Linked DNA regions of Homo sapiens. The protein of the gene in region 1 interacts with the protein of each later gene in a pairwise test. Each region holds a gene or a part of one and is shown on either strand. Other genes may lie near its edges.

Region 1 (12,538 bases):
GGCGCGATCTTGGCTCACTGCTGCCTTGGACTCCTGGGTTCAGGCGATTCTCCTGCCTCAGGCTCCTGAGTGGCTGGGATTACAGGTGTGCCCCACCACACCTGGCTAATTTTAAAATTATTTATTTTTTGGTAGAGATGGGGGTCTTGCTATGTTGCCTAAGCTGGTCTTGAACTCCTGGTGTCAAGAGATTCTCCCACCTTGGCCTCCCGAAGTGCGGGGATTCACGGGCGTAAACCATCCTGTCTGGTCTGTTTTTGTTTTTTAGTCACTGTTGCAACCCAGCTTCAAAAAACTACGGGAGGCTGGCCACAGTGGCTCATGCCTGTAATCCCAGCACTTTGGGAGGCCGAGACAGGTGGATTGCTTGAGCTCAGTTCGAAACCAGCCTGAGCAACATGGCAAAACGCTGTCTCTATCAAAAGAAGATGCAAAAATTAGCCGGGCATGGTGGCGTGTGCCTGTAGTCCCAGCTACTTGGAAGGCTGAGGTGGCAAGATCGCTTGAGCCCAGGAGGTGGAGGTTGCAGTGAGCCGTGTTACACCACTACACTTCAGCCTGGGTGACAGGAGAAGACCCTGTCTCAAAAGAAAAACAAACTAAGGGAAACCAATGCCCCAGGCTGCAGAGAGCAGGTCGGCCTTGGAACATCCTCCCGCGCTGGGGCCTGTGGCAGCCACAGAAACCCGGGTGTGAATTCACAACATGTGGGGGACCCAGGGACAGCGAGTGCCAAGGGGGGAAGGGGGCAAGTTCACATACAGCCACCTTGGGATCTAGCGCTTTGATGCCTGCAGAGAAGTCCCACCCAGAGACACCGCCCACCCGCCCACGGTGGGGCAGTGTCAGCCGCGTCTGAGCTCCTGACCCGCAACGGCCAGCCGGGAGGGCCCAGGCTGTGGGGTTGCTTTTTAATGTTCTTATTTATTTAAATATGAAAAAACATTTCATCTCTTCCCAGTTCATCTGAAAGGAGGTCCCCTGGGTAAACATAGGAAAGCAGTTCTGCAGGCTCATGAAGGATGCTCGGCTGGAGGTCGGGGGGAGCATGGCTGCTTTCCCCAGCATAGCCCCCATGTTCCCCACCCTCTTTGTGCCCCGGATCTGCGATCCTGAGTCCAGAAGAGCTCAGCAGGAAGTGGGAACTGAGAAGCTGTTGGGAGCCAGGAGGGCCCTGGACCCTCTGTTCTCTGCCCCAGGGCTTCAGCCACCCTGCAAGCCCCTCCGGACAAGGCAACGTCAGCCCAGGTAGAAAACTTAAGAGTCCCTCCTAGAAAACCAGTGATGTGCTGGCCCTTTCAGGGACACAGGCCCCTTCAGCTTCACCGGAGATGAGAAGGTGCCACCCGCAACAGGGCTGCTGGTCACAGCTCAGTGCGCGATGCCTTGGCCACAATCACCAGCTTGGACAGCTCAGCTTTGAATGCCCCGGGCCTGTGAGCCACTGCAAGAAAGAAACACATGGTTGGGCCCTCAACATTGAAAATTCTCAGAAGTCCGGAGGATTTGGGGTGGGGCCCATGGTGGGGGCTAAGCAGGCAAGGGGAGCAGTCTCCAAAGCAGACTCCCATGTGAAAAGGCCCCAGGCACTGAAAGTCTTACGGGTGACAGACAGGAAAACAGTGATGTGGAGGGTAAGGTCGGTGGGGCTAACATAGATGGCAGGCAGCAGGAAGCCACAGAAAGACCTGAGGTGGGAAGAACCCTGGTCATTTGTGCCATGTTGTCAAGAAGAGATGCAGAAAGGGGCCAGAAGAAGCCCAGGAAGGAGATGATCCCGGCCTGAACAGGATGCAGGGTGGGTCAGGCTGCAAGACCTCCTGCTCAGTGGGTGAACCTGTCTGAGGCCCTCATGACACTTCTCCAGCAGGGTCAGAACTCTGGCTTCCACTGCTTCACCCAAGTCTCCCGGCCCTACCTGCTGTGTCCACTCCCTTGGCTCCCACCCTTGCCCCAGCTCGGCGCCTCCGATTCCTCTTTCTGCTTAGCATTGGCGCCATGCAGCTGAATGTGGCTTGAGGACACCGGTGCTGCTCAGGCAACCGAAGAAGGACCCTGATGTTTCCCAGTGACCCCTGCAGCCTCCCCTCGGCATGCCACAGTCCCAACCTCAAAGCCCTGATGGTTTCTACTTTGTTTTATTTCATTTATTTATTTTTTAAAATTTATTATTTTTTTTGAGATGAGAGTCTTCCTCTGTTGCCTAGGCTGGAGTGCAGTGGTGCAGTCTCGACTCACTGCAACCTCCTGCTCCTAAGTTCAAGAGATTCTCCTGTCTCTGCCTCCTGAGTAGCTGGGATTACAAGCATGTGCCACCATCCTTGGCTAATTTTGGTATTTTTAGTAGAGAAGGGGTTTCACCATGTTGGCTAGGCTGGTCTGGAACTCCTGGCCTCCCAAAGTGCTGGGATTACAGGTGTGAGCCACCATGCCCAGCCCTGTTTATTGTTTTTGAGACAGAGTCTTACTCTGATGCCCAGGCTGGAGTGCAGTGGTGCGATCATAGCTCAATGCAGCCTCGACCTCCTGGGCTCAAATAATCCTCCCACCTCAGCCTCCTAAGTAGCTGAGACTACAGGTACACACCACCATGCCCGGCTAATTTTTTTTCTTTTTGAGACAGAATCTTGCTGTCTTCCAGGCTAGAGTGCAGTGGCATGATCTCAGCTCACTGCAACCTCCACCTCCCAGGTTCCAGCAATTCTCCTGAATAGCTGGGATTACAGGTGCGCACCACCACGCCTGGCTAATTTTTTGCATTTTTAGTAGAGATGGGGTTTCATTATGTTGGCCAGCTGGTCTGGAACTCCTGACCTCAAGTGTTCCGCCCGCCTCGTCCTCCCAAAGTGCTGGGATTACAGGCGTGAGCCACCGCACCCAGCCTGATTTTTAAAAAAATTTTGTAGAGACAGGGTCTCGCTATGTTGCCCAGGCTGGTCTTGACCTCCTGGGCTCCAATGATCCTCCCACCTTAGCCTCCTGAGCAGCTGCGGTAACAGGCATGAGCCACCGCGCCCAGCTAAGATAAAGTTCTAGTGGCACACAGCCACACCCACGCATGGACATACTGTCTGCAGCAGCTTTGTGCCACAATGGCACAGCTCTAGACAGAACCCACAGTGCCACAAAGCTGAAGATATTGACGAGGTGGCCTTTATAGAATCAGTTTGTGGATGCCTGGTCTACAGTCTCCAGGACCCCTATGGCTGACCCCCCTCTCCAAACTGCCCCGATTGCCCACCCTTGGATGGGGGTGGCGTCACCTCTACCCCATCCCCATCTTTCCGTACCTGCTGTTTTGGTCACTTCAAATTCCTCAGTTTTCAGAGGGACATCACTTTCCCTTTCAAATGCGGCTTTAGACTGAAAAAGAATGAGTGGAAACTTTACCAGGGCCAGTTCAATGCTCATCATTAGGAAAACGATTGAGTTTGCTTTCCAGAGAAGCACAGACTAAAGCTTTCTACTTTTACTAGAGATGGAGAGGAGACTTTTTTGTTTTTGAGCCAGGACCTCACTCTACTGTCCAGGCTGGAATGCAGCAGTGCAATCATAGCTCACTGCAGCTTCAAAGTCCTGGACTCAAGTGATCCTCCTGCTGCGGCCTCCTGAGTAGGTGGGACTATGGGTGCATGCCAACACGCCTGGCTATTTTTTTTTTACTTTTGGTAGATATAGGGTCTTGCTATGTTGCCTAGGCTGGAATCAAATTCCTGGCCTCCAGCAATCCTCCTGCCTCAGCCTCCCAAATTGCTGGGATTACTGGCGTGAACCGCCGCGCCTGGCCTGGAGAAGTCTTTTCTGGCATATACAAGAGAAGCCAGCAGCAACAGGTTACCAAACCCCCGTGCCCCTGGCCTGGGGGCGTCTGTGTGCCAGGTTCCTGCAAGTTACACACCCTACCTCTGCAGGATTCGCTGTCCCCTCTCCTCCCTGTCCCCATGGAGCCCTCTTGTGGCAGGACATCTCACAGCTGCCCCAGTGCACAGAAGCCACACCCGGAGCCTGCCCCACTCCAAGATACTCACGTAGGCCATGGCGTACTCAATCTCAGCGCCCCGCACCTCTGCCTTGAACTGTGTGAAGTACAGATAGGACTTCCCCTGGGGCCTGCAGAGGAAGAGGGGGCGAGGGAGTCAGGCCAGGCCTGCTGGGTCTGGGTCTGTGTGCCCTGGAAGGAGCCCCGCCAGGGACTCGGGCTGGGGTCAGCAGGTCTCGTGCCTGCTTCTCAACATGGACGCCATTCCCGAGCACGAGCACCTGCTGACTGGGAAGGATGGATGGGGCCCTCTCAACAGCAGACCCTCTTTCTTTTGTGCCAGAATTTTTTTTTTTTTTTTTTTTTGGAGACGAGTCTCACTCTGTTGCCCAGGCTGGATGGCAATGGCACAATCTCACTCACTGCAGCCTCTGCCTCCTGGGTTTAAGTGATTCTCCTGCCTTAGCCTCCCTTGTAGCTGGGAGTACAGGCACCCGCGACCACATCTGACTAATTTTGGTATTTTTAGTAAAAACATGGTTTCACCATGTTGGCCAGCCTGGCCTGAACCCCTGACCTCAAGTGATCCACTCGCCTCAGCCTCCCAGAGGGCTGTGATTAGAGGTGTGAGCCACTGTGCCTGGCCCCTTTGTGCCAGAATGTTCTTCCAGCTCATTCATAGACACGCCTCTCTCCCCTGTGGGCTGGGAGCTGCTCTGGGACAGGACCCCATGTCCATTCACTGCACATGGCTTCTTGGTTGCTGACAGCAATCCAGGTACTACGACGGGGGCTGGGGCTGGGCAATGAGAGGCCAGTAAAGGCTTCTCAGAGGGCATTGACTAGGAAGTACAGGAGTTAACTTAAGAAGTGGGGAGGATCATCTGCCCAGGTCTCTAGAAGGCTGCTAACGGAGGCTTCTAAGGAACTGGAGTGGCAGAAGGTGTCGGAAGGTGACAGCAGGGGATGATGGCATCTCTGGTGTGAAGAGAGTGTGATGGGGATGGAGGGGCAGCAGGGGGGCCATTTCTGTGGAAGCCCTGGCTGGGGTTCTATGTGCATGGGTGGGGCGGGGGTATCCAGGGAGCCCTAGATTCTTCTTTAAGCCCTAGCACTGCCAACAGCCCTGGTCAGGGAGGGTCCAGTCACTGTCTGAGATGAGGAGGCCTGGGGTGGCAGGTCTCCGGGGCTGAGCATGCCCCTGGGGAGCTTTTGTGGGGGTTGGACAGGAGGATTCAGGCTCAAGGTGAGCCCAGCCACCATCCCAACTGCTCCAGACCTGCACCTGCCCAGATGCCCTCTGGGGAGCTGGCACTCAGGGGTCCATGCAGGGCAGTGGCCTGCAGACAGACGATGGCGACCGTGGGCTTCCCCAAGACTACAGGGCGGCCTCTGCAGGGTCTCTCTGGGCTGATGGGGCCTATCTCCTCTCAATGACCCTCCTGATGCCTCCTGGGGCCTTGGCCTGCCTGTGATGCAGCCAGTTCCATGGAGTGGGTGAGAATCTCCCCAGAAACACCTGCTGTTTGTAAAGCGCCCCGCAGGGCACGGCGGGACAACACCCACACGAGGCAGCAAATCACACCCTGTCCTTCAGTTAAACGTCGCCACTCCCTGATCTCTGCCTCCCATTTGTCAACGTGCTTTAACCTGACCGCAGTGGTGGAGCTATAGCTTGGACTTCTCCCTCCAAAGTGTCTGCACAAAATAAAGGCTCAAGAAATACCCACTGTTTGGGCTGAGACATTCTGGGCCAAGGATCAGGGAAGAAGGGACAAGATTCCTGAAGCCCCCGACCCCCTCCCCACCGGGGGGCCTGACGGCTTCCTTCCCTTCATGACCTTGCCCAGATCGAGCTGGGATCTAGGCAGTGGGGTTACGAGAATGAGTGGGGCGAGTGGAGCCGGGATAAGCCCATAAACCATGAGCCTGACAGAGGATGGCGGCAGGGGCAGAATCGGGCGGTGTCTGGGGAGACTTGGGGAGGGGCTGTGGACCCAGATGCATGTGTGTTCGGGCAGGTGGAAGAGAGTGCACAGCTTTTGTCTGATTCCCAGATGTCTGCACCCCAAGAAGGCTATGAGCCATCAGGCTGGTCCTTCAGAGAACATGCTGGTAAAGACCTGCCTGAGGGGAAACAGCTGGGGCCCCTTCTGGTGGGACACATTCCCCGGGAGATAGCATCATCCAAACCTCCACAGCCACTACCCCACAGACTCCCACACCTGCCACCTGCCTAGCTCGTCCCCAGCCCAGACCTGCACCAGCTCCGCCAGTTCCACCAGGACTCTGCCCAGCACCTTCCTCCTCCTCCTACCCCAGCTAGCTGATTCCACAGCCTCCAATCTGTGCCCTCCCCTCCTCCCTGTCCTCATTTTACACAGCCTCCAGTCTGTGCCTTCCCCTCCCACTCCGTCCTCATTCTACAGCCTCCAATCTACTCTCCCCACCCCACTCCATCCTCATTCTACAGCCTCCGATCTACATTCCCCACCCACCTCATCCTCATTCTACAGCCTCCAATCTACCCTCCCCACCCGTCCTGTCCTCATTCTACACAGCCTCCAATCTACCCTCCCCACCCGTCCTGTCCTCATTCTACACAGCCTCCAATCTACCCTCCCCACCCACCCCATCCTCATTCTACAGCCTCCAATCTGTGCCCTCTCCACCCATCCCATCCTCATTCTACACAGCCTCCAATCTACGCTCCCATCCACCCCATCCTCATTCTACAGCATCCAATCTACTCTCCCCACCTACCCCATCCTCATTCTACACAGCCTCCAATCTGTGCCCTCTCCACCCACCCCATCCTCATTCTACACAGCCTCCAATCTACCCTCCCCACCCCATCCTCATTCTACAGCCTCCAACCTGTGCACTCTCCACCCACCCCATCCTCATTCTACACAGCCTCCAATCTATCCTCCCCACCCACCCCACCCTCATTCTACACAGCCTCCAATCTACCCTCCCCACCCACCCCATCCTCATTCTACAGCCTCCAATCTACCCTCCCCACCTCATCCTCATTCTACAGCCTCCAGTATACCCTCCCCACCCACCCTGTCCTCATTCTACACAGTCTCCAATCTGTGCTCTCCCCACCCACCCCATCCTCATTCTACAAAGCCTCCAATCTACCCTCCCCACCCACCCCATCCTCATTCTACACAGCCTCCAATCTGTGCCCTCTCCACCCACCCCATCCTCATTCTGCACAGGCTTCAATCTGCGCCCCACCCCCAACCCCCGACTCCATCCTGGTTGGTGCCTGGAGGGGCTCCCTGCCTCAGCCTGCCTCCTTCAGCCGGGGGGATCTGAGCTCCACATGTTCCTGCAGGGAGCCCTCTGGAATAGGACTCAGCCAGGAAAAGAAATGAGGCTGACACGGGCCTCAGCATGGATGAGCCTTGAGGACGTCACGTTCAGTGAGAGACGCCAGACACCAAAGGCCACACAGGGAAGGTTTGACCCCATTTCTATGCAATGTCCAGGACACGCCCATCCACAGAGACAGGAGGGGGATGCGTGGCTGCCATGTGCTGGGAAGGAGAATGACTCTGATGGGAACAGAGTTTATTTTCAGGGGATGAAAATGTTCTGGAAGCAGAGGTCTGGCTGCACACCTCTGAGAAAGTACTCCATGCAGCTGAATTGTGAGCTTAAAATGCTGTGCTTTATGGAATTTTATCTCAGTTTTTAAACATTGCCAAAAAGGGTCAGGCATGGTGGCACACGCCTGTAATCCCAGCTACTCAGGAGGCTGAGGGAGGAGAATCGCTTGAACCCAGGAGGCGGAGGCTGCAGTGAGCCAAGATTGCTCCACTGCACTACAGCCCGGGCAAAAGATGGAGACTCCATCTCAAAAAAAAAAAAAAAAAAATTGCCAAAAAGCCCTTTGGTGAGTTCGTCTCACCCTTAGGGGAGGGTGGAGCCCCTTGGGGCCTTCCTGGGCCCTGGTCCACGCTCCGCACCCTCTGAGCTGCTTCTCCTTTTCCTGGGACCTTGCCCCGCACAGGCTCCCCCCGTCTCCCCCAGACCTTCTCAGTCTCTGCATCAGTGCACTTCCTTGGGGAGCACTCCCACCCCAGCGACCCTGCCACCCCCCACCTGCACGTGCATGAGTCTCCCTGCTGGTCTGTCTTCCCCTCCAGGGGTGCAGCCCTCGTTCCCTGCCTTCCAAAGCAGCTCCTGAGGCCACAGGGCAGGCCAACGGCAGCCGGAAATGCCATCCCCACCCCGAGTCTCACCTCCAGATGGTGCAGGTGAAGTGCTGGTGGTCTTCGCTGGTCCCCAGACTCATCTGCCATTGCTGGGGAGAGAAGACAGCGCGGGTCAGCCCCGGACACACAGCTGCTCTCGGAGACTTCTAGGTGTGCCTCTGATTCTACAGTCAGGCCACCTCTTCTGTACCTCCCGATTCAGGGGCTGGCCACTAAATCCCCTGCCCCGCCCTCCTGGTGGCCTGGGGTTTGCTGTCATCTGTGATCAGGGAGCCTGCCTGCACCACATCCTTCCCATAAAAGTGGTGCCTCTAATGAGAACTACCCCAAAGTGGCTCCCACGGATGGGGAAATAGGAACAACGCTGTTTGTTTGTTTGTTTGTTTGTTTTTGAGATGGAGTCTCTCTCTGTGGCCTGGGCTGGCGTGCAGTGGCACGATCTCGCCTCACTGCAACCTCTACCTCCTGGGCTCAAGCGATCCTCCCACCTCAGCCTCCCAAGTAGCTGGGACCACACCCAGCTAATTTTTGTGTTTTGTAGAATCACTGTCTTGCCATATTGCCCAGGCTGGTCTCAACCTCCTGGCCTCAAGCAATCCTCCCACCTTGGCCTCCCAAAGTGCTGAGATTACAGATATAAGCCACCATGCCAGGCCTAAGAACAACTCTTAAACATATAAATAGATGTCCAGGCCGGGCGCGGTGGCTCACGCCTGTAATCCCAGCACTTTGGGAGGCCGAGGCAGGCAGATCACGAGGTCAGGAGATCAAGACCATCCTGGCTAACATGATGAAACCCCATCTCTACTAAAAATACAAAAAATTAGCCGAGCGCAGTGGTGGGCGCCTGTAGTCCCAGCTACTCGGGAGGCTAAGGCAGGAGAATGGCGTGTACCCGGGAGGCGGAGCTTGCAGTGAGCTGAGATCGCGCCACTGCACTCCAGCCTGGGCGACAGAGCGAGACTCTGTCTCAAAAAAAAAAAAAAAAAAAAAAAAAAAAAAAGATGTCCCATATCATTTATGAAAAATAAATAAACACAAGCTGAACTATCGTGAGATACCTTTTTCTCCCAGGTCAGAAGGGCAAAAGCCCTCCTGTCTGCTAACACACCATATGGGTGTGAAAACCAAGACTATTCCAGGTTGTCGGTGGAGCTGCAACAGGTACAAGCAAAATGGAAAATGCAGGCTGGGCATGGTGGCTCATGCCTGTAATCCCAGCACTTTGGGAGGCCAACGTGGGATGATCACTTGAACCCAAGAGTTCGAGACCAGCCTGGGCAACATAGCGAGACCCCATCTCTAAAATGACTGGCCTCTTGCACGATGTTACCACCGGGGAACCTGGTTAAACGGTACTTGGATCTCTCTGTAGGATTTCTTACAAGTGAATGTAAATCTACCATGATCTCAAAACATACAGTTTTACTTTTTTTTTTTTTTTTGAGATGGAGTCTCGCTCTGTCACCCAGGCTGGAGTGCAGTGGTGCGATCTCAGCTCACTGCAACCTCTGCCTCGTGGGTTCAAGCGATTCTCCTGCCTCAGCCTCCTGAGTAGCTGGGATTACAGGCGCGTGCCACCACGCCCTGCTAACTTTTGTATTTTCAGTAGAGATGGGGTTTCACCATCTTAGCAAGGCTGGTCTCAAACTCCCAACCTCAGGCGATCCACCTGCCTTGGCCTCTCAAAGTGCTGGGATTACAGGCGTGAGCCACCGCGCCCAGCCCAGTTTTACTTTTAAGAAAATGGACCCATGAATCCCACTTCTGGGTGGTTTTCCCACAGATGTAACTGCACTTGTACAATGAACCCTGGCCAAGGTTATTCACGGACTGGGTTGGAAGTAACCCTCAATCCATTAGTACGGGATTGTCAACTCCACACGTCCATGCAACTGAAGCGCTTTACATAGGATACAGAAAAATCTCTAGGAGGCCGGGCACCGGTGGCTCACACCTGTAATCCCAGCACTTTGGGAGGCCGAGGCAGGCTGATCATTTGAGGTCAGCAGTTCAAGATCAGCCTGGCCAACATGGCGAAACCCATCTCAAGGTGTTGACCGGGCTAGGCTCTTACTGGTAGCTCAAGGTCCTCTTCCAAGCTCTTGTGGTTGTGGCAGATTTCAGTTCCTCTTGGTTGCGGGACTGAAGTCTTCATTTCCTTGCTGCCAGCCAGAGGCTGTTCTCAGCTCCTAGAGGCCGCGTGTATTCCCTGCCCTGCAGTTCCCTCAAGGGCAGCAGTGGCGTATGTGTCCATGTGCTTCAAATCACCCTTTTTTTTTTTTTTTTTTTTTTTTTGAGACAGAGTCTCGCTCTGTCGCCCAGGATGGAGTGCAGTGGCGCGATCTTGGCTCGCTGCAAGCTCCGCCTCCCGGGTTCACGCCATTCTCCTGCCTCAGCCTCCCCAGTAGCTGGGACTACAGGTGCCCACCAAAACACCCGGCTAATTTTTTGTATTTTTAGTAGAGACGGGGTTTCACCGTGTTAGCCAGGATGGTCTCGATCTCCTGACCTTGTGATCCACCCGCCTCGGCCTCCCAAAGTGCTGGGATTACAGGCATGAGCCAGTGCGCCTGGCTCGCCCGGCTAATTTTTGTAGTTTTAGTAGAGACGGGGTTTCACCATGTTGGCCAGGCTGGTCTGGAGCTCCTGACTTCAGGTGATTCGCCAGCCTTGGCCTCCCAAAGTGCTGGGATTATAGGCATGAGCCACTGTGCCTGGCCCAAATCATCTTTACTGGCTCTTCTGCCACCAGCTGGAGACAACAGCCAGCAAGGAAACCGGGACCTTGGTCCCTGAACCACAAGTAACTGAATTCTGCCAACTAAGAGCTTGAAGGAGAGGATTCTTCTCCCAGCCCAGAGACTTTTTTTTTTTTTGAGACAGGGTCTTGCTCTGTTGCCCAGTAGCACAATCACGGCTCACTACAGCCTTGACCTCCTGGGCTCAAGCGATCCTCCCACCTCAGTCTCCCAAGTAGCTGGAACCACAGGTGCACGCCACCACGCTGGGCTAATTTTTTTATTTTCTGTAGAGATGGGGCATGAGCCACCATGCCTTGCCTGTGATACCTTTATTTATTTATTATTTATTTTTTGAGACAGAGTCTCGCTCTGTTGCCCAGGCTGGAGTGCAGTGGCACAATCTTGGCTCACTGCAACCTCCGTCTCCTGGGTTCAAGTGATTCTCCTGCCTCAGCCTCCTGAGTAGCTGGGACTACAGGCATGTGCCACCATGCCCAGCTAATTTTTGTATTTTTAGTAGAGATGAGGTTTTGCCATGTTGGCCAGGCTGGTCTCGAACTTTGACCTCAGGTGATCTGCCCGCCTCAGCCTCCCAAAATACCTTGAGTTTGGTTTTATGAAGCACACAACTGAGCTGACCCAGACTTCTGACCTACAAAGCTATGAGATAATAAATGGGTGCTGTTTTAAGCCCCTAAGCTGTGATAACTTGTTGCACTGCACATAAAATACAACATCCCAACAGATGCTCATGGGGATGGCAGACTCCCATCTCCCCTCCCTCCTTCTGTCCAGACATTTGCTTGCTCTGTAGAATAATAACAGCAGAATCTGTCGTCACTGTTTAATGCCAATACTCTCCCTTTTTATTGGTTTAGGAAGAGTCATTCAATGAGTGTAAGGTGATATAGGTGAGACCCAACCCTGCTGTCTGCTACAGAACATCTCCCTACAACAATGGATACTGTCACAGTAAGCTAGAGGGAATTTTGAACAACTCACCTCATTGGTCCCTCCTTGAGAGGCGTAAGTGAACATACACGTATATTTGTCCTAGAGAATGGAAGGAAAAAAAAGGTTTGGTAGAAGGAAATTTTTATTTTGTTTAAGAGACGGGGTCTTGCTGTCACCCAAGCTGGAGTGCAGGGGCACAATGACAGCTCACTGCAGCCTCGAACTCCCAGGTTTGAGTAATCCTCTTGCCTCAGCCTCTCAAGTAACTGAGACAATAGGTACGCAACCACCACACCCGACTAATTTTTTTTTTTTTTTTTGAAGCAGAGTCTTGTTCTGTCGCCCAGGCTGAAGTGGGATGATCTCAGCTCACTGCAACTTCTGCCTCCCGGGTTCAAACGATTCTCCTGCCTCAGCCTCCTGAGTACTTGGGATTACAGGCACCTGCTACCACACCTGGCTAATTTTTCGTATTTTTGTAGAGATGGGTTTTGCCATGGGACCTGGACAAGTGAAAACTTTTCTGAGCCTCTAGTTTCTCTCTGTTTCTCTTTTTTATGTGAAGCATTTTCTCATCTGTAACTTGGGCCTAACATATAAAGGACTTGGCATCACACCTAACTATAAGGAAG
Region 2 (12,538 bases), on another chromosome or scaffold:
GGAGGCCAACGCGCGGCTCTGCGCAGGCGCCTGTGTCATGGCGCTCCCGCATCAACCGCCCGGCGGGGAAATGCGCTGCTCTCGGAAAACTGGTGCAGCTGCGCCGCAAGGGAGCCGCCGGGGCGGTGGGTGCGAAGCGCGCATGCGCGCTTCGTCACAAGGGTGCGAGGAAAGTCAGTGAGCAAATCGCGGACCACCGGGGCTGCCAGCTCGCCTGACTCCCGGCCTCTTGCGCTCCTAGGGGCGGAGAAGGGTGCGGGCTCTTCGCCCTTTGTGTCCTCCTTCTTTCACTAACTTCTGGACTTTCCAGCTCTTCCGAAGTTCGTTCTTGCGCAAAGCCCAAAGGCTGGAAAACCGTCCACGATGACCAGCATGACTCAGTCTCTGCGGGAGGTGATAAAGGCCATGACCAAGGCTCGCAATTTTGAGAGAGTTTTGGGAAAGGTATGGGAAAGGTAGGGGAGAAGCCGTGGCTTCTAATGAAGGAAAAGAAAGCACCGTGCTTGGTGCCGTTGTGAGCTTTGAATAATTATCTCTTGTTAGGTTGTGTTCTAGTACGCCTGTAAATTCACCTTAGTAATAATGATTATTACTTTAATGGAGCCCCTAAATATGCTGGGTCGAACGCGTAAGTTCTCTATCTAAACATAGATAAGTATGGTTATGACTCGTGGAGACAGTTCCAAGGCTGGGAGGGACTTTGGAGTTTGATCCTTCAACCAACAAACGTCTGCATTGCTCCAGAGAAGAGTAAGAGAAACCTCTGCATTTAAGGCACATTACAGTCTAATTCTCTAGGCTCTAGAAGATTAGAAGATAAATAATTGCAATAAGGTACAAAAGCCAAGTGCTTGGTAGAGTGGTGAACGAAGGGAGAAGTTGTTCCTCTGTAGTGGTTTGGGAAATTTCTCAAAGGCACCCAACTCCTGAAGAAGTAAGTTAGCCCTTGGAGGAAGACTGAGTGCTTTTCTGAGACCAGCACTCACAAAGCCCGAAGGTGTTTGTTTGTTTTTGTTTTTTTAGGATGAGGTTTCGCCCTTGTTGCCTAGGCTGGAGTGCAATGGCGCGATCTCGGCTCACTGCAACCTCCACCTCCCTGGTTCAAACAATTCTCCTGCCTCACTCAGCCTCCCGAGTGGCTGGGATTACAGGCATGCGCCACCATGCCCAGCTAATATTGTACTTTTAGTAGAGACAGGGTTTCTCCATGTTGGTCAGGCTGCTCTCGAACTCCCGACCTCAGGTGAAACGCCTGCCTCCGCCTCCCAAAGTGCTGGGATTACTGGTGTGAGCCGCCACGCCAGACCTTGAAGGTGTTTGTTGTTGTTGTTGTTTTGAGATGGAGTCTTGCTCTGTTGCCCATGCGGGAGTGCAGTGACACGATCTCGGCTCACTGCAACCTCCGCCTCCTGGGTTCAAGTGATTCTCATGCCTCAGCCTTCCAAGTAGCTGGGATGATTACAGGCATGCGCCACCAAGCCTGGCTAATTCTTTATTTTTATTAGAGACAGGGTTTCATCATGTTGGTCAGGCTGGTCTCAAACTGCTGACCTCAGGTGATCCACCTGCCTTGGCCTCCCGAAGTGCTGGGATTACAGGCATGAGCCACCATGCCCCGCCAAAAGCAGGGATTTACTGAAAATGAAAGGACACTCCTGTGTTTGGGGTGTGGAGCAGCAGCTCAGGGGCCCTAATACCCCATTGAAGTCTCCTATTGGCCACTTGGTACTCATCTCATGTAAATGAAGTGGTGACCCACAATTGGCTGTGAAAAGCAACCAATGAAAGGCTAAAGTGAAGTTACAAAGTTGCCCTTATATGCAAACGAAGACGTGGCGTGCAATCAGATGGTGAAGTTACATAGTTACACTCCTATGGGAAGATCTGATTGGTTGCAGAAAGAATAATTTTTTTTAAGGGATAACTTACTTCTTAGCGTAATTTTGCTTTTTGCAACCAATCAGAGGTACTTTCAATTTCCCATCTGCCACACAGAAAAGGTGGGGGTTTGGAAAGGGAGAAGCCTCTGGTTCTTTTGTTACTTGGTGTGGGAAGTTAGGGTTTTACTTTCAATTTAGTTCTAGGAAGTCAGCGTGAAACAGCCCTAGGTTCCCTGCCTCCAGATCCGATTCTCCTGCCTCGCTTGTAAGAAAATCATGCTCCATAAGAAGCATTTATAACTAAACCTTGTGAACCCCAAAAATTTGAGACAGGTATCAGTTAATTTAGAAAGTTTATTTTGCCAAGGTTGAGGATGCGCACGCAGTGACACAGCCTCAGGAGGTCCTGACAACATGTGCCCAAGGTGGTCAGAGCACAGCTTGGTTTTATGCGTTTTAGGGACATATAAGACATCAATCAATATATGTAAAATGAACACTGGTTGGGTTCGGAAAGGCGGGACAACTTGAAGCGGGAAGGGGGCTTCCAGGTCACGGGTAGGTGGGAGACAAATGGTTGCATTCTTTTGAGTTTCTGATTTACCTTTCCTAAGGAGGCAGTCAGATACACATTTATCTCAATGAGCAGAGGGATGACTTTGAATAGAATGGGAGGCAAGTTTGTCTTAAGTAGTTCCTAGCTTGAATTTTCCTTTTAACTTAGTGATTTGGGGGCCCAAGATATTTTCCTTTACATTTGCCCCCTTTTCTTTTTTTTAAAAAAAATTTTTTTTTGGAGAAAGCATTTTAGAAGAAAAATGAGTCTTTGGTCCCAGATTTCATCTGATCGCTCATGCTAGGATGGTTTATTCCTAGACAGGTAAGTCCCAAGTTATTAGGAAAGCTAATTTTTAGAAGGCTGTGAACTCCCATGTCTTGTGAAGAGAAAATAGGGGGAGGAAGGGTGAAAAACAACAAACAAAAGAACAATCCTGGAAAATATACATAGGCCACGTTATTCTGAAGTCCATACATCAGTAGGCAGGTATGAAAGTGGCTTATGCGTGTAAATAGGTTGCTGTTATTTTCTTCTGAAGTTTAAGTTGTCTAGCTTCAGTTTGCAGGGCTTTACAAAAGCACAGCTGTTTTCAGTGACTCCTAATTAGGAAAAAAAAGGAAAAGAAAAGAAAAAAATTAAAAATATTATTTTGGAGACTTGTAGCCAGGAAAAATTAGAATTCAGCCTAAACTGTAGAAAATAATAAAAATTGAAAAAATTAGGCAAGACTAGTATCTAACAACAAGTGGACTGTAAGTTTTGAAACAATTTTTCTCTCTCCAGTTTTCCATTTTTACTAAAGACAAATCATGGTAGGACTGATTTGCTTTATTATATTTGACCAGATTATTTATATAAAGTGTAGCAAGAATAATTATTTTTCACATAGGCTTTTTAAAATTGGCTTTGAAGGAACTTTGTTCCATAGAAGGAATCTCAGATAAGATTCTTTTTAAAGCCAAGCTCAGCCATGGATTTGTACCATCAAATACCTATGAGTAGGGTGAATTTCCTCTTTTTGATGTTCCATGATAAACCAGGGGCTCCTGGACCTGTCAGAAAATGACATTCTTTACTTAGCACATATCAGAAACCCTGTACAGGGACTTTGTAAAGTGTGAGGCCAGTTTTCCCAAGGGCTTTTATTGGCTCCATAAGTCAGGTTTGATTACTTAAAGGAAAGTACACCTTTCCACTCAAAGCCTTGGTAAAATAATCAGTTTCTCCAACTGTGTCCTGTTACAAATGAAAACAGATTCTTACTGCACTTATGCAAATAACTGTATTGGCACAAGTTAAGAATACTCACAAATAGTTTACAAATTCTGGAGAAATCAGGTAGAGAGAAACAAATATGCTCCAAATTTTGTTGATTGGAGTATACTAAATTGTTAAAAGCTGTCAATAGCTCAAAAGAAAAGTTTCAAGGCTCTGAAAAACAAAGCAAAAGATCAGCAATGTTTAAGCAAAAAGTCAAAAAGATTAGTTCAGTCCCCTTAGTTAATTCCTATTCTGCTTGATATTCATGAGCATTTTAGCTCTCCATGAGTTCTGAAAGTTTTTCCTCTATTCTCATGTAACAATCTCCAAAGTTAATGGAGACCTGCATTCAAGAGGAAACAACAGGTGCTGGAGAGGATGTGGAGGAATAGTTACGTTTTTACACTGTTGGTGGGAGTGTAAACTAGGTCAACCATTGTGGAAGACACTGTGGTGATTCCTCAAGGATCTAGAACTAGAAATACCATTTGACCCAGCCATCCCATTACTGGGTATATACCCAAAGGATTATAAATCATGCTACGATAAAGACACATGCACATGTATGTTTATTGCAGCACTATTCACCATAGCAAAGACTTGGAACCAACCCAAATGTCCATCAATGATAGACTGGATTAAGAAAAAATGACACATATACACGATGGAATACTATGCAGCCATAAAAAAGGATGAGTTCATGTCCTTTGTAGGGACATGGATGAAGCTGGAAACCATCATTCTCAGCAAACTATCACAAGGACAGAAAACCAAATACCGCATGTTCTCACTCATAGTTGGGAATTGAACAATGAGAACATTTGGACACAGGGCAGGGAACATCACACACTGGGGCCTGTCGTGGGGTGGGGGGATGGGGGAGGGATAGCACTAGGAGAAATACCTAATGTAAATGACGAATTAATGGGTGCAGCAAACCAACATGGCACATGTATACATATGTAACAAAACTGCACGTTGTGCACATGTACCCTAGAACTTAAAGTATAATTTAAAAAAACAAATTTAACAAAGAAAACATTATCAAGAATAAATAATGAATCTCAAAAAACAACAACAGCAACAACAAAAAAAAACACTTTCTAAAGAGGACCAAAACAACACAACAATTGTGCGTGGATGACTAAAAGTTTTAGGGCAGCCATAGGCAAAGACACAATTGACAAGGAAATTTGATACCTCTCCTCTGTAGCACACAATAATTTTAACGTAACAATTATGATTATTACTGATAATGTACACTAGGTCATATCAGAATTACAGGAATTTCCCATAATTTTGGAACACATACCAATAACATATTTATACAAATACATCTCAAAGAAAGCCAAACACTGTTGCATATTTGACAATGCTTCCTGTGTAATTTTTGTACCAAATAAGCCAAATTATGCCATTTTTGGACTTCAGGGAATCTAATATCTTAAAGGACTAATTAGGTCAGAAAAAGACATAATTTATAATTTGATTTTGGAAAGTTTGTCAAATATCAAATGTTTAAAACACCTGATATCACAAAAATAGGATCACAGGTCATTATAAAATAAATCATTCATTTAACCAAAGTGATAACTCAAGGATTTCATAAAAAGGTGAAAACCTTCATTCTTTGAGAGAGGGGACTTAACTTTCCAAACAATAAGCCCTAATAAAAACAGCATGAAGCTAATTAAATTTGTTTTCAAAATTTTATAAACAATCTATAAAATTTTAAACTTGACCATAAGATATAATTTCTAACTGGGCGTGGTGGCTCACGCCTATAATCCCAGCACTTTGGGAGGCCGAGGTGGGCAGATCAGGAGGTCAGGAGATCAAGACCATCCTGGCCAACATGGTGAAACCCCTTCTCTACTAAAAATACAAAAATTAGCTGAGTGTGGTGGCACGCGTCTGTAGTCCCAGCTACTCGGGAGGCTGAGGCAGGAGAATCGCTTGAAGCCAGGAGGCGGAGGTTACAGTGAGCTGAGATTGAGCCACTGCAGTTCCAGCCTGGGTGACAGGGCGAGACTCCATCTCAAAAAAAGAAAAGAAAACAAAAGATATAACTTCCATAAGCCTTTATAACCTTTATTAAGGAGTCAGTTAATGTGTCAAGAAAACCTTGTTAATCTGATTACAGGGGCCCATAAGCTGATCTTGCATCATTGTGCCTTTGACGTTAATCATTAATTTATAGAGAAACTGAACTTATTTTATCTTTCAAATTTGGACCTTACAGTCTTACCTGCCCACCTCTTCTTCGATAGTCTCTGGGCCTTGAGGAGTTGAATGCCTTTAATTTCTGGCCGTGTATCTCAGGAATGCAGTTTATTTTGATTGGCGTCTTCTACGGGGCCTGAAGATGACAGCTTCAATTGCTGTCAGTGTTTAAGATTTAGTAGGACTTGGTGTCCTTTTTAGACCCAGGAGTCAAAGCCCTGTAACCTAAGGTCACAAGGACTTTAAAAGCACATACAGGAAAATACCCAGTTGTAATCATGTTAATTAAAAAATCTTTTTTTAATCTCAGTTTTTTCCTAAACATAGGAATTATTTCAACAAAATGTAAACTCTGTTAGGTCAGTTACCAAAAAGCAAAAGAAAAGACCTTCTGCAATGCACAGAACATGATGTTGGAAGAAAACACTTCCTTTAGACCTTTAAGACAGTGTGCCTTTTTAAAGGGGAGAGAAAGCTGAAAAAAAATGGCAAGATGCAATAAAAATTGAACTTTCAGTTTTAAAAAAAAATTAAATTCTCTTATAATTTTTTTTTTGAAATAGAGTCTCGCACTGTTGCCCAGTTTGGAGTGCACTGGTGCAATCTTGGCTCACTGCAGCCTCTGCCTCTTGGGTTCAAGCAATTCTTGTGCCTCAGCCTGCCAAGTAGCTGGGACTACAGGCACATGCCACCAGGCCTGGCTAATTTTTGTATTTTTGTTAGAGACGAGGTGTCACTACGTTGGCCGGGCTAGTCTACAACTCCTGACCTCAAGTGATCCACCTGTCTTGGCCTCCCAAAGTGCTGGGATTACAGGCAGAAGCCACCATTCGTAGGCAAATTCTCTTATAATTTATTAAGAGTAAGTTAACCCCTTAAGAAAAGTTTATTTTTCTAACCAATAATTTCGTGTATATGTGTCTTTTTTAACATGAAGCCCAGTCTCTAGAAAGAGCATTATAATTTCCTTTTAATTGTAAACATGATCATATACAATTTTTTTAAAACAAATCCTCTTATTGTGACATACACAGACCATTCATGACATGCTTGAACTTTTATCTTAGGACTAAATTTACCATACAGTATTCTTTCTCATGTAAAATTATTTCTAAGCTTTCTTACCACATACAAAAAAAATTTGTTTTATAACTTCCTTTACAACATCTCTCTTATTTCCTGATTCCTTTACCTTGTTGTATACATAACCTTTAAATAAGTTTTGTGGGGTTTTTTTTGTTTGTTTGTTTTTTATCTGAGACAGAGTCTTGCTCTGGCACCCAGGCTGGAAGGCAATGGCCCGATCTTGGCTCACTGCAACCTCCACCTCCTGGGTTCAAGTGATTCTCCTGCCTCAGCCTCTCGAGTCGCTGGGATTACACGTGCACCACAATGCCCAACTAATTTTATATTTATAGTAGGGACAGGGTTTCACCATGTTGATCAAGCTGGTCTTGAACTGACTTCAAGTGATCTGCATGCCACGGCCTCCCAAAGTGCTGGGATTGCAGGCATGAGCCGCTGCCCCTGGCCTAAATAAGCTTTGAATTAGACAAAACTTGTTCACCGTTTTTGGGGGGTTTTGTTTGTTTTTTTGTTTTTTTGAGATAGAGTCTCATTCTGTCACCCAGGCTGGAGTGCAGTTGCGTGATTTCAGCTGAGTGCAGCGTCTGCTTCCTGTGTTCAAGTTATTCTCCTGCGTCAGCCTCCTGAGTAGGTGGGATTACAGGCGCCTGCCACCACGCCTGGCTAATTTTCATTTTTTGTATATTTAGTAGAGACAGGGTTTCACCATGTTGGCCAAGCTAGTCTCAAACTCCTGACCTCAAGTGATCTGACTGCCTTGGCCTCCCAAAATGCTGGGATTACAGGCATGAGTCAGTGCACCCAGCCCTAGAGTTCAACTGTTTTTTTATTTTCTTATTATACTTTAAGTTCTAGGGTACATGTGTGCAACGTGCAGGTTTGTTACATATGTATACATGTGCCATGTTGGTGTGCTGCACCCATTAACTCATCATTTACATTAGGTATATCTCCTAATGCTATCCCTCCCCCCTCCCCCCACCCCACGACAGGCCCCGGTGTGTGATGTTCCCCACCCTGTGTCCAAGTGTTCTCATTGTTCAGTTCCCATCTATGAGTGAGAACATGTGGTGTTTGGTTTTCTTTCCTTGAAATAGTTTGCTGAGAATGATGGTTTCCAGCTTCATCCGTGTCCCTACAAAGGACATGAACTCATCCTTTTTTATGGCTGCATAGTATTCCATGGTATATATGTGCCACATTTTCTTATTCCAGTCTATCATTCATGGACATTTGTGTTGGTTCCAAGTCTTTGCTATGGTGAATAGTGCTGCAGTAAACATACATGTGCATGTGTCTTTACAGCAGCATGATTTATAATCCTTTGGGTATATACCCAGTAATGGGATGGCTGGGTCAAATGGTATTTCTAGGTGTAGATCCTTGAGGAATTGCCAGTGTCTTCTACAATGGTTGAACTAGTTTACAGTCCCACCAACAGTGTAAAAGTGTTCCTATTTCTCCACATCCTGTCCAGCACCTGTTGTTTCCTGACTTTTTAATGATCACCATTCTAACTGGTGTGAGATGGTATCTCATTGTGGTTTTGATTTGCATTTCTCTGATGGCCAGTGATGAAGAGCATTTTTTCATGTATCTGTTGGCTGCATAAATGTCTTATTTTGAGAAGTGTCTGTTCATATCCTTTGCCCACTTTTCGATGGGGTTGTTTGATTTTTTCTTGTAAATTTGTTTAAGTTCTTTGTAGATTCTGGATATTAGCCCTTTGTCAGTTGGGTAGATTGTAAAAATTTTCTCCCATCCTGTAGGTTGCCTGTTCACTCTAATGGTAGTTTCTTTTGCTGTGCAGAAGCTCTTTAGTTTAATTAGCTCCCATTTGTCAATTTTGGCTTTTGTTGCCATTGCTTTTGGTGTTTTAGACATGAAGTCTTTGCCTATGCCCTGAATGGTATTGTCTAGGTTTTCTTCTAGGGTTTTTATGGTTTTAAGCCTAACATTTAAGTCTTTAATCCATCTTGAATTAAGTTTTGTGTAAGGTGTAAGGAAGGGATCCAGTTTCAGCTTTCTACATATGGCTAACCTGTTTTCCCAGCACCATTTATTAAAAGGGAATCCTTTCCCCATTTCTTGTTTTTGTCAGGTTTGTCAAAGATGAGATGGTTGTAGATGTGTGGTATTATTTCTGAGGGCTCTGTTCTGTTCCATTGGTCTATATCTCTGTTTTGGTACCAGTACCATGCTGTTTTGGTTACTGTAGCCTTGTAGTATAGTTTGAAGTCAGGTAGCGTGATGCCTCTCCAGCTTTGTTCTTTTGGCTTAGGATTGTCTTGGCAATGCAGGCTCTTTTTTGGTTCCATATGAACTTTAAAGTAGTTTTTTCCAATTCTGTGAAGAAAGTCATTGGTAGCTTGATGGGGATGGCATTGAATCTATAAATTACCTTGGGCAGTATGGCCATTTTCACGATATTGATTCTTCCTATCCATGAGCATGGAATGTTCTTCCATTTGTTTGTGTCCTCTTTTATTTCGTTGAGCAGTGGTTTGTAGTTCTCCTTGAAGAGGTCCTTCACATCCCTTGTAAGTTGGATTCCTAGGTATTTTATTCTCTTTGAAGCAATTGTGAATGGGAGTTCACTCATGATTTGGCTGTTTGTCTGTTATTGGTGTATAGGAATGCTTGTGATTTTTGCACATTGATTTTGTATCCTGAGACTTTGCTGAAGTTGCTTATCCGCTTAAGGAGATTTTGGGCTGAGATGATGGGGTTTTCTAAATATACAATCATGTCATCTACAAACAGGGACAATTATAGAAGGACTGGGGGTCCTTCTATAAGCATTTCTAATAGAGGGTCCTGCCTTGCCGCTCTTTTGGCTTCAATATCCGCTTGGCAGTTCCTTTCTGTTTCCCTTTCCTTTCTGGTGACTCTGGCAGTGTAAGACTGCCACCTCTTTAGGTTTCTGTACAGCCAATAGTAATCTCCTAATGGCTTCCTGATGTTTGATAGGTGTTCCCTCGGAAGTTAGGAATTCCCCTCTCTCCATATTGCTGCATGGGCATGGAGGACTAGGTAAGCGTACTTAGAGTCTGTATATATATTTACCCTTTTCCCTTCTCCTAATTCTAGTGCCCGAGTGAGGGCTATTAGTTCTGCATGCTGAGCACTAGTTCCTGGAGTGAGGGGATTAGTTTCAAGTATTCCATTATCACTGACCACTGCATACCCCGCTTTTCAAAGTCCTTTTTCTGCAAAGGAACTTCCATCAGTATACAAGTTGAGGTTGGGATCAGTCAAGGGAACCCCTAAAAGGTCCCCTTGAGCAGCATTAGGTTTGAGCAATCACATGTTGGCATTTATGTTCTATCTTTTCTTCATTGTCTGGAAGAAATGTGGCTGTGTTAAGAGTTGCACAAGTGCGCAGTCACACCACTGGCCCATCAAGTAATAGAGCCTGATATTTAAGTAAACGGTTGTCTGACAGCCACAAGTCTCCTTTAGCAGTGAGTATGCCATTCACATCATGAGATGTTCACACAGTAAGATCTCTTCCCTGTATTACTTTAACTGCTTCAGATACTAAGACTGCTACTGTTGCCACTACCCGTAAACAATGAGGCCAACCCTTTGCCAGTACATCAATTTCCTTACTCAGGTATGCCACAGGTTGCAAGCTGGTCCCTCGGACCTGTATAAGGACTCCTAGAGCTATTCCTGTTTCTTTTGCGACATATAAAGAAAAGTCTTGCCCCATTGGCAAGCTTACCACTGGGGCTTGGGTTAGGGCCTTCTTTAGGGCCTGAAAAGCCACTTCTGCTTCAGGTGTCCATCTTACTAAATGGGTATTGGCTTTCTGAGTTTCCTTAGTGTGTATAATGGCCTGACTATTTCGCTGTACCTGGGAATCCATATTCGGCAGAAGCTTGTTATGCCAAGGAACCCTCTTAGTTGCTTTAGGGTTTTGGGATGAGGATAAGCCAGTATAGGCTGGATACGTTCCTCACTGAGGGCCCTTGTGCCTTTGGATAATTTTAGCCCTAAGTTTTTAACCTGCTGTGAGCAGAGCTGAGCATTTTGTTTGGAAACCTTGTAGCCACAGGTAGCAAGGAAATTTAAGAGTGCTTGGGTGGCTTGATGGCACCAGGTTTCTGATCGGGTGGCTAAAATTAAATCATCCCCGTACTGAAGGACAAGAGTGTCCAGGTATGAGAATTGGCTCAAGTCTTGGGCTAATGCCTGGCCAAATAGATGGGCGCTATGCTTGAACCCTTGGGGTAAAACAGTCCAGGTGAGTTGAGACATTGGGTTCAAAGGATCTTCAAAGGCAAACAAGAATTGAGAGTCAGGGTGTACAGGGATGCAGAAAAAGGCATCCTTAAGGTCCAGGACTGTAAACCACTCTGCTTTCTGTGGTTTTTGGGAAAGCAGAGTACAAGGGTTAGGTATAGCAGGGTATAGAGGAAGAACAGCCTCATTGATAATCCTGAGATCTTGCACTAACCTCCACTGTCCATTAGGTTTCTGTACTCCTAAAACTGGAGTATTGCAGGGGCTATTGCATGGTTTTACTAGGCCTTGGGCTTTTAAGTCCTTAACAATCTTTTGGAGTCCTTGTTGGGCCTCAGGTCTAAGGGTACTGCCTTTGGTAGGGAAAGGAGGTAGAATCCTTTAATTTAACTTGAATAGGACAGGCATTCTTTGCTCATCCATATTGTCCTTCTGTTGCCCAGACGTCAGGATTAATTCCTTCCTCAAGCAGGGGAAAACAAACAGGTGTTCCTTCTCCTATGTTCAGATATATAATGGCCCCTGCTTTTGCTAGAATGTCTCCCCCTAACAAGGGAGTGGGGCTTTCAGGCATAATTAGAAAAGCATGTGAAAAGAGTAAAGTTCCCCAGTCACAACTTAGTGGCTGTCCTAGGACCCCTCGGATAGTGACAGATCTGGAGGACAGTTGTCTGGGACAGGAGAGTAAGACTGAGAAGGCCATGCCAGTGTCCAGGAGACAGTTAACCTCCTGGCCTTCAATGTTCAAGCATACCCGGGGCCCTGTGAGGGTGATGGCATGGGCTGGTGCTTGCCCCGGGCACCCTCAGTCCTGCTGCTGGATCATCTGGTTAGTGGCTTCTGACTCAGAGGACCTTCGTCCCCTGGGGCAATGGGCCTTCCAGTGATTCCCTTGACATAAGGGGCATGGACGAGGGGGCAGCTTACTTCTACTTGGACAATCTTTTTTAAAGTGTCCTTGTAGACCACACTGGAAGCAAGCCATATTAGGCATTCGATTTGCCCAGCTTTTCCCTTTTCCAGAGACTCCAAAGTCCGCTTGCCTGAGGGCCATGACTAAAGCAGTGGCCTTTTTTTTTATCCCGTTTGTCCCATTCCGCCTGCTTCTCCTGATCTGTATTATAAAAAACCGAGGTTGCCAAGTTCAATAGGGTCTAAGTTTTGCTCTGGGCCTAAGGCGGACTTTTGAAGTTTTTTTCTAATGTCTGCAGTTGACTGAGTGATAAACTTATCCTTTAAGATTAGTTGGCCTTCAATAGAGTCAGGTGACAGAGAGGTATGC

The links.
Region 2: the proteins of MYDGF (region 1) and ACOT13 interact in binary tests that used the Homo sapiens proteins (3 or more experiments, as listed by UniProt).

What each region holds. Positions count from the first base shown.
Region 1 is NC_000019.10:4,656,641-4,669,178, forward strand, and holds the end of MYDGF (myeloid-derived growth factor precursor), read right to left. Parts: intron 12,006-12,538; coding exon 11,955-12,005; intron 8,298-11,954; coding exon 8,236-8,297; intron 5,439-8,235; coding exon of another isoform or gene 5,081-5,438; exon of another isoform or gene 5,066-5,080; intron 4,111-5,065; coding exon 4,029-4,110; intron 3,364-4,028; coding exon 3,291-3,363; intron 1,445-3,290; coding exon 1,365-1,444; 3' UTR 905-1,364; downstream 1-904. UniProt on the Homo sapiens protein: Bone marrow-derived monocyte and paracrine-acting protein that promotes cardiac myocyte survival and adaptive angiogenesis for cardiac protection and/or repair after myocardial infarction (MI).
Region 2 is NC_000006.12:24,666,901-24,679,438, forward strand, and holds the start of ACOT13 (acyl-coenzyme A thioesterase 13), read left to right. Parts: upstream 1-176; 5' UTR 177-363; coding exon 364-444; intron 445-2,216; exon of another isoform or gene 2,217-3,038; intron 3,039-3,748; exon of another isoform or gene 3,749-12,538. UniProt on the Homo sapiens protein: Catalyzes the hydrolysis of acyl-CoAs into free fatty acids and coenzyme A (CoASH), regulating their respective intracellular levels. Has acyl-CoA thioesterase activity towards medium (C12) and long-chain (C18) fatty acyl-CoA substrates.